4 separate regions of the Homo sapiens genome follow, and all the other regions are linked to region 1. Evidence: fine-mapped expression QTL. A gene starts in region 1. Each other region holds a variant in brackets. All regions are shown on one strand. Distances are between the middles of the regions. Region 1 holds the start of RTN4 (reticulon 4). Region 2 has its middle 20 kb from the start of RTN4. Region 3 has its middle 42 kb from the start of RTN4. Region 4 overlaps EML6 (EMAP like 6).

Region 1 (2,685 bases):
CCTGCAGCTGAAACCCCGGCAGAACTACGCCCCCTCGAACACAATGCCTAGATCCCCTTTCCCTGGCTCGGTTTAGCTGGTGGGGAGCAGTCCACATCACACCCCGGGGAGCTGGGCGGTGGCAGGACTTTACCAGAACTCTCTCCTTCCCATTTCTCCACGCACCACACCACTGGAGGCGCTCTCCCTTCACTGCGGTTGGGTCAATGTGGACGTTTTCCACTCGGCCAGCTCCCCACGAGCACAGGAGGAGGGGGAGGGGAAGCGCAAAGGGGCCACCCACGCCAGCCAGGAGGTGAGGAGGGAGCCCGGGGCAGAATGCAGGCCAACAGACCCGCAGCAAAACTGCACCTTTTCCAAAGGAGCAACCCAGACGGGTAGACAAAAGCACCTCCTAAAAATATCTGGGTGCCAAGGCCTTTCCTTCCTCACCTCGAAGCCCAACCAACCCGATAAATCCACAACCCTGGCTCTCGGGTATATACCCGGCTCCTACTACGGGTGGGTGCCTAACTTCCGAGAATCCGTACGCTGGGCATCACACAGGGTGAAAGTGGGAGCCGGGAGCGGTGCACGTGTTCCCCGAAACCAAGACGGACAATAAGAACAAACCCGGGCTCCAAGGGCCGCCCCACCCTTCTCCCCGCGCTTCCAACCAGACGGGGCGCCATCGCCCCGAAGTCCGCAGACAAAGCGCCCTCGGGGCGGAGAGGAGGGACCAGCCCAAAGCATCTGGGGCTGCACACAAAAGAGGGAGGGGCGCGAGGGGCGGCGCGAAGCGAGAGGTCGCGGCACTCACCCACTGAGCCCGAGGAGCCCCTGCGCTTGGGCGCGGCCGGGGTGGAGGGGGGCGCGGCGGGAGCCGGGGCTGGCGGGGTCCACACGGGCTCTGCCTGGGGGCTCACGCTGGCCGGGGGAGGAGGGGGAGGCCGGGCCGGAGGCTCGTCGTCCTCAGGGAGCTTGGAGGGCGAGACTGCGGCAGCAGACAGCGGGGATGGCGCGGGCACGGTCGACGACACCGGGCTCGGGTCCCAAGACGGCTGCCGCTCCGGGGCGACGGGGGGAGCGGCCGGCAGGGGTCCCCGGGGCGCCGGCGGCACGAAGTCATTTCCGAAGTCCATCAGGGGCGCGCCGGCGGCAGGGGCGGTGGGCACTGGGGCCGCGGACAGCCCGGCGGCGGGCTTCCTCTCCAGCACCTCCAGCTCCTCCAGGTCTTCGTCCTCGTCCTCCTCTTCCTCCTCCTCTTCTTCCTCCTCGTCCTCGGGCTCCCTCACGAACTGGTACTTGAACGCGGGCTGCGGCCGGGGTGGGCTGTCCGAGGACGAGACCAGAGGAGACTGGTCCAGGTCTTCCATGGCTGGAGGGTGGAGATGATGCTGCAGCTGCTGCCGCCGCCGCCGGGGCCGCGTCTCAGAGCCGCGGGCGGTTGTGGGGGTTGGGGAGGACTGAGAGGGGCTGGGCCGACTGAGCCGAGGGACCTACTGTGGTGACGGCTCCCGGAACAATGAGACTGCTCCTCCTGCCTCCGCGCCGGTGATGCGCCACCCGCCCTGTCCCCACTTGCCGCCGCCGCCCAGATGAGCTAGGAGTGAGGCCAGCGGACTCTCCGCCCAGTTTGGCGTGACTCACCCTCCCCAGGGGAGGGCAGGGACTGGCGCGGGAGGGAGAGAGCCAATCGGCTACAGGATCGAGAAGATAGGCGACCAGCCGGGCCAACAGAAAGGGAAGGAGATGAAAGTGGGTGGGGACTACGGCACTTCCTCTCTCTTACCGGCTGGGATTGCGTTCAATGGGCGGGGCTGAGAGCTGGGAGCTCCACCCCCACTTTGGGTAACCGTGAGTTGGGGTGGGGTCTTGGCCTTGCCCGCAGCTGGCGTCCGTATGTCGTTAGAGCACTGGGAAAGGGGGCGGGCTGCTGGCTGGGAGGGGTCGGCGCGGTTTCTGGCGCGCCACCGGAAGGGCGTTATCCTGGGGGAACTGAGAGTGGAAACTTTCCTCCCGGGAAAGGAAGAAACCCGACTGGAGAAAGGTATTAGCGGGACTGGGAAGTGGGCCCTAAGGATTTTTAAAGATTTTTGAAATAAAAGATTATTTGTTCACTCAAAGTTCCAAACTACATCACTACTACTACCACCCTAAAATAAGAAAAAAATTGTTTTTTGACAGTTAGGCTCACTCAGTCTAAACCGCAGCCCCCGAAATTGGGAGGAAAACAGCTGTGCTGAATTAACTAGGGATCTGGGGCCGACCATTTGAAAGTCTGCTCTTCTTCCAAAGAGAGTTTGGGGCCTTGCCTGCTGGACTCTTACATGGTAAGAGAGTGAGTCACCCAAAGAGAGAGGCAGCGGGGAGACAGGAAAGTGGAAATACAAAGATGCCTTGGAAAGCTAATTTGGTTCACGTTACATTTCAGTCACCTTAGGTTCATGAGTCAACATTTCGGATGATTCAGGCTTTCTGGGAGTCAGGAAGCCCCATAGTCATTGGTTTGATATGCAGGAATAAGCATGATCCCCATTCCACTTTTTATGAGGCTGGAGAGTTTAAAGAGAGTAGTTGCAGAACATCTTTGTAAGAATCAGGATCCTTTTATCTTTCTGATTTACCTTTCAAAAATATTCACTGCATGCCTACTCTGGAGGCCCTGGAGAGAAGAGGATAACCTGCTTTCAAGTTGCTCAAAGT
Region 2 (2,685 bases), 20 kb after region 1:
CTAGATAATGACTAACACATTTTACCTAGCTCAGAAAAAAACCTAATTAGACTGGTTTAGTCCAGTCGTCTTCAAGAAATCAATTGCTTAGAGTATGAAAGTTCTAACCTTTATCAGTGAGATAAAAGTAATGCTTCTCATCCATGTCAGCATTCTTCTGGAAAATAAAATCCAAAATTACCTGGTCCTCTGTAACCGCCCCCCTCAAAAAAATCAGAAAGCCCCTCTAATACTCTAAGTGTTCCTCTTAGTAAATTCAACTCTGCCATTGTCTAAAAACAAACTGAAAATATCTGCATGGCCAGAGACTACTATCCACAGGGTTTATTGCTATTACACAAATAAGAGTTACAACTTGTAGGTGAGTATGGAGTATAATTGTTCACCCTCCTTTCAGAAGTAGAGTTAACTTCTAGGAAAATTCACCTGTGAGTTTCCTCTAAGGCACTAAGGGAAGGCCTCTGCCTCCTCCACCCAAGCATTCTTCCAAAATTAATAATAGAAGCTGGCAGATAAGCAGTCTCCCAGAGAGGCCCAACCGACATTCCTGGGGGCACCTGCAGGGCCTGCACCTCCACCCATCACCCAATGTCCACGAAGTTCAGTGTTTTCTCTAAGAGAGCAAGAAAAAGAGACCACAGTGGAACTGAACCATGTCAATTTGATGTCAAAGAGGAAAAAGAGAGAAACACAGGTACATGAATTAAGCCAAATGCTGGCTGGAGAAGTAGGGATGATGACAACTGGGGAAAGGATTGAGAGAAGGGATGAAGAATTAAGAGAAAGCAGCAAATGTGGGGTAAAAGATGGCACATTATTGAACTCCCTTTTAAAATGTCTTGCCCAGTGGTTTCGATGGCAGAGACTAATCATAGGGCAAACTGATAACATGCCAAGCACCATTAACCAAGGCAAAGAGACAGTCTAAAGCAGGGGTTCCTCAACCTCAGAACAATTAAAACTATGAGCTGGATAGTCTTTGTTATGGGGGCTGTCTTGTGCATTCTAGGATGTTTAGCGGGATCACCAGCTGCTACTCACTAGATGCCAGTAATACTCCAGTAATACACCCTTCCCCAAATCCTCCCCACCCCCCCAAACAAAAGGCCAGGCACAGTGGCTCGCACCTGTAATTCCAGCACTTTGGGAAGCTAAGGCAGAAGGATCCCGTGAGCTCAGGAGTTCAACATAGCGAGATCTTGTCTCTACTAAAAATGTTAAAATATTAACCAGGCATGGTGGCTCACACTTGTAGTCCCAGCTACTCAGCAGGCTGAGGCCAGAGGATCACTTGGGCCCAAGAAATCAAGGCTGTAGTGAGCTATGATCATGCCATTGCACTCCAGCCTGGGTGACTGAGCAAGACTCTGTCTCAAAAAAAAAAAAAAAAAAAAAGAAAGAAAGAAAGAAAAATAAAATACTCCCTCCCATTTGCAATAACCAAAAATGCCTTTGGGAAGAGGGATGAGATTAGGGGTGGGGAGCAAAATTGACTTTGGTTAAAAATCACCGGTCTATTATTATCTCAGCATATAAAAATCTCCACTCCTATCAAGGACAAACAGCTGTTTTGATT[T/TTTGTTGTTG]TTGTTGTTGTTGTTGTTGTTGTTTGTTTTTTTGTTTTTCGTTTTTTTTGACAGAGTCTCTCTCTCTTGCCCAGGCTGGAGTACAGTGGTGCGATCTCGGCTCACTGCAAGCTCTGTCTCCCGGGTTCACGCCATTCTCCTGCCTCAGCCTCCCGAGTAGCTGGGACTACAGGTGCCCACCACCACGCCTGGCTAATTTTTTGTATTTTTATTAGAGATGGGGTTTCACTGTGTTAGCCAGGATGGTCTCAATCTCCTGACCTCGTGATCTTCCCACCTCGGCCTCCCAAAGTGCTGGGATTACAGGCGTGAGCCACCTCGCCCTGCCTTTTTTTTCTTCTTTTTTTTTTTTTAATGGAACTTTGAAACTCCAAGCCCAGTCTAAGTTCCTGGAAATGGTTTCAAATTATGCTTAGCTTCTACAATAATAATTTACTGGCCACCAGGGGGTCTCTTGCTTGTGATCTACAAGACAAAATGTCTGGCACAGTCAGTCATCCTGGGTCCTATTACTACCTTGCAATTAACTCTTTGTGTCTCAGTTTCATCATTTCTCAAATGGGAGCAATAGTACCTTCCCTACCTTCTGTACGGGTGATTATAAGGAAACAACGAAAGGAGATGGAAAAGTGCTTTGAAAGTTAAAAGAAAATGTAACCAGACATAACTAAGTCATTACGGTCTTTTCAGAAACTGGAAACACATTAACAAACAACCCTGTGTGTTTGATGCCCTTTTCTACTTCTAACTACATAGAATTTGTGTTGCTGGTATAGGAGAGGCACCATTTGCCATCAAAAAAAAAAAAAAAAAAAAAAGCCAGTCATTTACTTCTGCTAATGCAGAGAATATTTGTGATCTGGTTCTATGAAAAATGCTGCAGGCGATCACTGACTTCAGACTGTCAATTTATAGATTACCCCTTTTTAGCAAACCATAGCCCATACCCTTCACTGATGTCCCCAGCACTGCCGCAGTGCCTGTGGTTGTCAAAAAACCACAAACAAAACCCCTGAATCTTTTTAGAGATTCTATGGATTTATTAGTGAAGGGAGGGAAAAAGTTGTAAAGATCATAAACAGTTTAGGAGAGAGCAGTTCAAATTACTT
Region 3 (2,685 bases), 42 kb after region 1:
GGTCCAATTGCTCATACAATTTCTCCTCTTAGATATCTAATAAGTAACTCCCATTTAAAATGGCCAAAAACCAAACTCGGCTCCACCCCCTAAACATGCTTCTCCCTCAGTCTTTTCCACCTCAGTTACCAGCCCCACATCCACTCAGTTGCTCAAGCCCCAAATCTACGAGTCATCCTTGGTTCTGCTTTCTCTCATTCTCTCTATCCAGGAGATCAGCAGGCCTTGTCAGTCCCTCCTCCAAGACACATCCCAAGTTGACATTTTTCAACTTCTCTGCACATCTCCATTGATTCCACCCAAGAAGTCTCAGCCACCAGTCCTCAACTGAACTCCCAGTTTTGCTCAACTGGCTAGAGCAAAAACCTCCCTAACCAGTTGCCCTGTCTTTCCTCTGGCCACCAGTGGCCTTTTCACTACCTGGTGGTAGCAGCCAGAAAGGGGTGTGTCTGTGTATAAATCGGACAGTATGGCTCCACCATTTACAATCATTCATGGCTTCCCATTGCAATCCAAATTCCTCTCTGTGGCCTAGGGGGCCCCACGTGATTGGGCCGTGTTTACCACTCTGACCTCTTTCTTCCTCCATTCATAGGGTGTCATCCACACTGGGCCCTTTCTTCCCACATACACATAAAGCTTCTTGCCTCAGAGCCTCCGTACATGCTATTTTTCTGCCTGGAATGCTTTTCCCTTAAATTTTCACCTGTCTGCCCCAATCCCTAAACTTCTAGCCCCTGCTCACTCTCTACCCTTTATCTTATTTTCCTGTAACACTTACTTGTTGCTTGATTACAAATTTTTCATCTTCCTGTCCTCATTAGAATGTAAGCTCAGGCCAGCTGCAGTAGCTTGTACCTAGAATCCCAGTACTGTGGGAGGCCGAGGCAGGAGGATTGCTTGAGCCCAGGAGTTTGGGACCTGCCTGGGCAATATAGCAGGATACTGTCTCTCCAAAAAGAAAACTTTTTTTAATTAGCCAGTGTATTAGTCTGTTTTCATGCTGCTGATAAAGACATACCCAAAACTAGGAAGAAAAAGAGGTTTAGTTGGACTTACAGTTCCACATGGCTGGGGAGGCCTCAGAATCATGGCAGGAGGTAAAAGGCA[T/C]TTCTTACATGGCAGCGGCAAGAGAAAAATAAAAAAGATGCAAAAGCGGAAACCCCTGATAAATCCATCAGCTCTCGTGAGACTTACTCACTATCACGAGAACAGCACAGGCAAGACTGGCCCCCATGATTCAATTACCTCCCCCTGGGTCCCTCCCACAACATGTGGGAATTCTGGGAGACACAATTCAAGTTGAGATTTGGGTGGGGACACAGCCAAACCATGCCAGGCTTGGTGGCACATGCCTGTAGTCTCAGCTACCTGGGAGGTTGAGGTGGGAAGATTGCTTGAGTCCAGGAGTTTGAGGCTGCAGTGAGCTGAGATGGCACCACTGCACTCCAGCCTGGGTGACAGAGTGAGACCATGACTTAAAAAAAAAAAAGGAAGCTCAATGAAGGGAGAGATTTTTTTTTCTTTTCTTTTTTTTTTTTTCGAGTTGGAGTTTCCCTCTTGTTGCCCAGGCTGGAGTGTAATGGCATGATCTCAGCTCACCGTAACCTCCACCTCCTGGGTTCAAGCAATTCTCCTGCCTCAGCCTCCCTAGTAGCTGGGATTACAGGCATTCACCACCACCCCTGGCTAATTTTGTATTTTTAGTAGAGACAGGGTTTCTCCATGTTGTCAGCCTGGTCTCAAACTCCCAACCTCAGGTGATCTGCCCACCTCGGCCTCCTAAAGTGCTGGGATTACAGGCGTGAGCCACCGTGCCCGGCCCGAAGGAAGAGATTTTTTATCTCCAGCTCCTAGAACACTACCTGGCAGAAAAAAGTGCTCAACACAAACTTGTGGAATGAGTATACCTGAGTTTCACTTGTTTCCTGCTTGCCCTCTGTCAGAGGCCACACCCAATTGTGGCACCTGGTAAAAGCCTCACTCATTAGAGTTTTGTCATTTAACTCCTTCCTGTAAGCCAGGTAAAACTGACCACATATATATGTAGATGCCCTTTTCCAATTTCAGTTTGGGGGCTCCCCTGGAGAAAGCAGAGGCCTCACACTAGAGCTAGAAGCGGCCCCAGGAAAATTCACATGGGGTGAAGTTTTATTCTTTCAAAGTAGCCAGTTTTGCCCCTTCGCATTTTCTTCTTCTTCACAGACATTTTCCCAATGGGTAAAACTTTTTTGTTTGATTTTAAAAATTCACTTTTTCACTTATCTATTCAGTGTTGCTTACTGAGTTCTGACCACTAATAAAAATAACCATTGTGTGTGTGTCTATGTGTGTGTGTACGTGTGTAAAATATCAGAAGATAAGAGCCTTGCATTGTTCTAAGAGCTGCTTGAAAATGTCTGTGTTTTGATAGCTTATGATGCACATTCGTGGGCCAGCCAATTATAGTGACAGCTCTTTAATGAAGAAATGTCATACACATTAATATAGAATTTGTATTTGCTCTTAGTAATACCTGTAAGTGCCTAGTTCAACAGTTTTTGTGGTTGAAATGCTAAAAAATACAACTGAAATGCTGTTGAACTCTAAATGGCTAAATGCATGTATACCTGTATGTTGTTTTATTTACAAACACATAAACATATGTGTGTATTTTATACTTAAATAATTTATTCTATATATATT
Region 4 (2,685 bases), 80 kb before region 1:
CCACTTCCCACTCAAAAGCACTGTGTATTTCTCATGGCCTGCCTGGGAGCCCCCATCTCCAGCCTGCTGTGCTGGCTACTTCTGGCACTTATAGCCCTTGAGATAGTACCGCCAGCAGCTCCCTGTGAAGTGCTAACACCCCTTCAAAGCAGCACCAACCCAATTGTGAACAAGCTAGGAGTAAAAGACGTAAATGAATTGGTCACCCCAATGCAGGGGATACAGACTTGTTTTAATATAAAAAAGAAGTGGCCTTAACCGTGCAGGGCTTGCAGGCCTTTGTAGGCATGGGAGCATGCTGTGATCCCTGGTTCTGTGCTAAACACTCAAAAGGGCTCTCTGACTCAAGTGGAGGTGATAAACCTTTTCAATAGTAACAGGAGAGAGTGTGATATCAAAGTGCCAGAAGTCCTCACGGACCAACATTTAGCACAGACATTCAAACTGCTGAAAGAACCAAACAGAACTCAACTGAAAAAAACAGACCTTTTAAGAAAAGCAATAGATCTTAATTTGGTGGCAAGATCCCTGGTTTACCTTTTGAAGTCAAAATGTTCAATACATCACCCGAGCTTGACTTTTGAGCACTTGGCAAGATTGTTTTTTGCCACTTGACACAAGTATGATGTCCAGCTATGCAAAATGACTGTTTGATCTGCCTTTTCAGTGTATTTGTGTGGCGATGTCTGTAAAATGCCAGAAGCCTCTTATGTTATTGCTGCTGCTGCTACCAGCCAGCAACTGCAGAGGCCATGCTGAGGTGCCTCCTTGCCACCAGCCGTTGGGAAATGCCTACCATGCTGCCCCGGATGCACAAGCTCAAAACGCTGCAGAAGTTACACAACTGCTCCCATAATCTGGACTCTCCAAAACCGTGATGCCACGAAGGAAGGTCAAGTTTTAAAATGTTAAAGACTGCTTGCCTCTGTTCCTGAGACTAAACAGTATACATACTAACTACATTGACAAAGAAATCCTATCTGATAATGTAGCCCGCTGACGAATTTTGAAGCCTCGGTTACCCTAACCAATATGTAGCTTTTAATTTGCATCAAAACTTTTACAAAGATGTTTTGCTATTGTTTCTATATACTTCAAGAATGTTCATTTTTACAAATAAGTTGAACAAGACAGCCTAAGTTAGATGCACCGAAGTACTAGAAATATCGCTAGCCTCTGTTCTCCAGTTTAGCTTTCAAAACCAAATGAGCCATGTATAAAGGAGTTGAGAAACTTAATTTTTAAATGTTTCATTTGCAGAGTTTTATATCCATTAAGTGCCTTTGAAAGTTTCCAGTTGTGTGGGCTGCTGTCTCACCTCCCACCAATTTCTCCTTTCTCC[A/T]TATGGTGCTAAAACCTCAAAGCTGAGGAGGGCTGCAGGACCCTTAGCAGATTCAGTGTGTCACCCTTGTCCTGTGTTCACGCCAAGGCTTCCTAAATGAAAGACATCGGTTACCTGCTTATGGGAAGGTGAGCAGCAAAGGAATTGAAGTTCGGGACAGGGTAGAATTATGGGTTTTCATTGTGTTTCATGCCAAACCCACAAAATCCAAAATAGAATTCAAGTTAAACAAACTTCTACTACAAAATGGAAGGGGAAAAAGGCTCAGGAAGGTCTATGAGAATGAGCTGACTTATCTCGTTAAATCTTAAGATAAATGAGGGTAACCCAAGGCTGCACCTTGGTGTACCACCCTGAGTGGAGTTGAGGTGACTTCATTTGATTGCTTCAGGCGAACTATATAGGTCAAGTCCAGATTATAAAAAAATTATCTGCAGAACAAATTGTAAACCCAAGGAATAGCTGGTAAATCAAAATTATAAAGTGAGTTAGAGTTCCTTGGAGTTGGTTGTATGACGGAATATGACTTGGACAATCTTTACCAGAAGCCATCCGTAAGCCCCTCAGTCACACTTTCCATGTAGCTGACCAGTGACTACAGGATGTGGCTGACAGTGCTCACTGAAAGGAGAGTTGGTGCGGGACTGGTGGTTCTGAGCACATAGACGCCTATTAGTCCTTCTGGTCAGTGAACGAAAATTCTAGACCTACAGTTACTGGCTACTTGCATTTGTCAGTTTAGAGAAAAGGTAAAATGAGGCATTTTCAATTGTAGAATAGACTAACATTTACCACAGAAGTGCTTCAGCATTCTAAATGGATTAGATCACTCATTAAGCTATTTTTATATGCCAATTTACTAATGCCTTACATCAATCCACTAATAGGTTGTTGGGCCCGCAGTAGAGTCCCTATGCAGTCCCAATTCTGTTTTCTGTAACCATGTGACTGGTGATGCAGAGTGATAACCATGTCTGCCTATCTTGTACTAGACTCTTCATGCTGATCGGATCTTGCATTGAAATAACCATGTGGAAGAACAATGAATCGATTAATGATGACATGTACAACCATATTTAAAGAGCAATAGTGTCCGTGTGTCATGAAAAACTTATTTGTAAACGTTTATATGGTATGATTTTGATTTTATGTATGTTCATAAATCCTGCACTGTATGATATATGTGAGTTAAAACATTGGTGCATGAATTTATTTTCAAAGTATAAAACACATCACTTAAACATTTTATGTGTCAAATAAAATTTGATTATGTAAACACATTTGTTGACTTTTGTTTCCACAGTAAACAAACAAACAGCTGCACCATCAGCTGAAAAAAACCC

Evidence for each region.
Region 2: its variant is fine-mapped to the expression of RTN4 in monocytes (Quach 2016, PIP 0.95).
Region 3: its variant is fine-mapped to the expression of RTN4 in whole blood (TOPMed, PIP above 0.99).
Region 4: its variant is fine-mapped to the expression of RTN4 in tibial nerve (GTEx, PIP above 0.99). The same link has a PIP of 0.9 or more in esophagus muscle, fibroblasts, subcutaneous fat and sun-exposed skin.

What each region holds. Positions count from the first base shown.
Region 1 is chr2:55,048,946-55,051,630 of GRCh38, forward strand. It overlaps RTN4 (reticulon 4), which reads right to left and starts at 1,506. Exons shown (of 9, transcript NM_020532.5): 1 at 800-1,506. The coding sequence starts at 1,355. RefSeq lists enhancers at 512-1,324, 1,287-1,336 and silencers at 827-946, 1,087-1,146.
Region 2 is chr2:55,069,172-55,071,856 of GRCh38, forward strand. It overlaps a transcript of RTN4 not described here. Among named protein-coding and RNA genes, the nearest start is that of RTN4, 20 kb to the left of the region's middle. The variant T/TTTGTTGTTG (reference allele first, on the strand shown) is at 1,577.
Region 3 is chr2:55,090,710-55,093,394 of GRCh38, forward strand. It overlaps a transcript of RTN4 not described here. Among named protein-coding and RNA genes, the nearest start is that of RTN4, 42 kb to the left of the region's middle. The variant T/C (reference allele first, on the strand shown) is at 1,111.
Region 4 is chr2:54,969,404-54,972,088 of GRCh38, forward strand. It overlaps EML6 (EMAP like 6), which reads left to right. Exons shown (of 42, transcript NM_001039753.4): 42 at 668-2,622. The coding sequence ends at 692. Among named protein-coding and RNA genes, the nearest start is that of RTN4, 80 kb to the right of the region's middle. The variant A/T (reference allele first, on the strand shown) is at 1,343.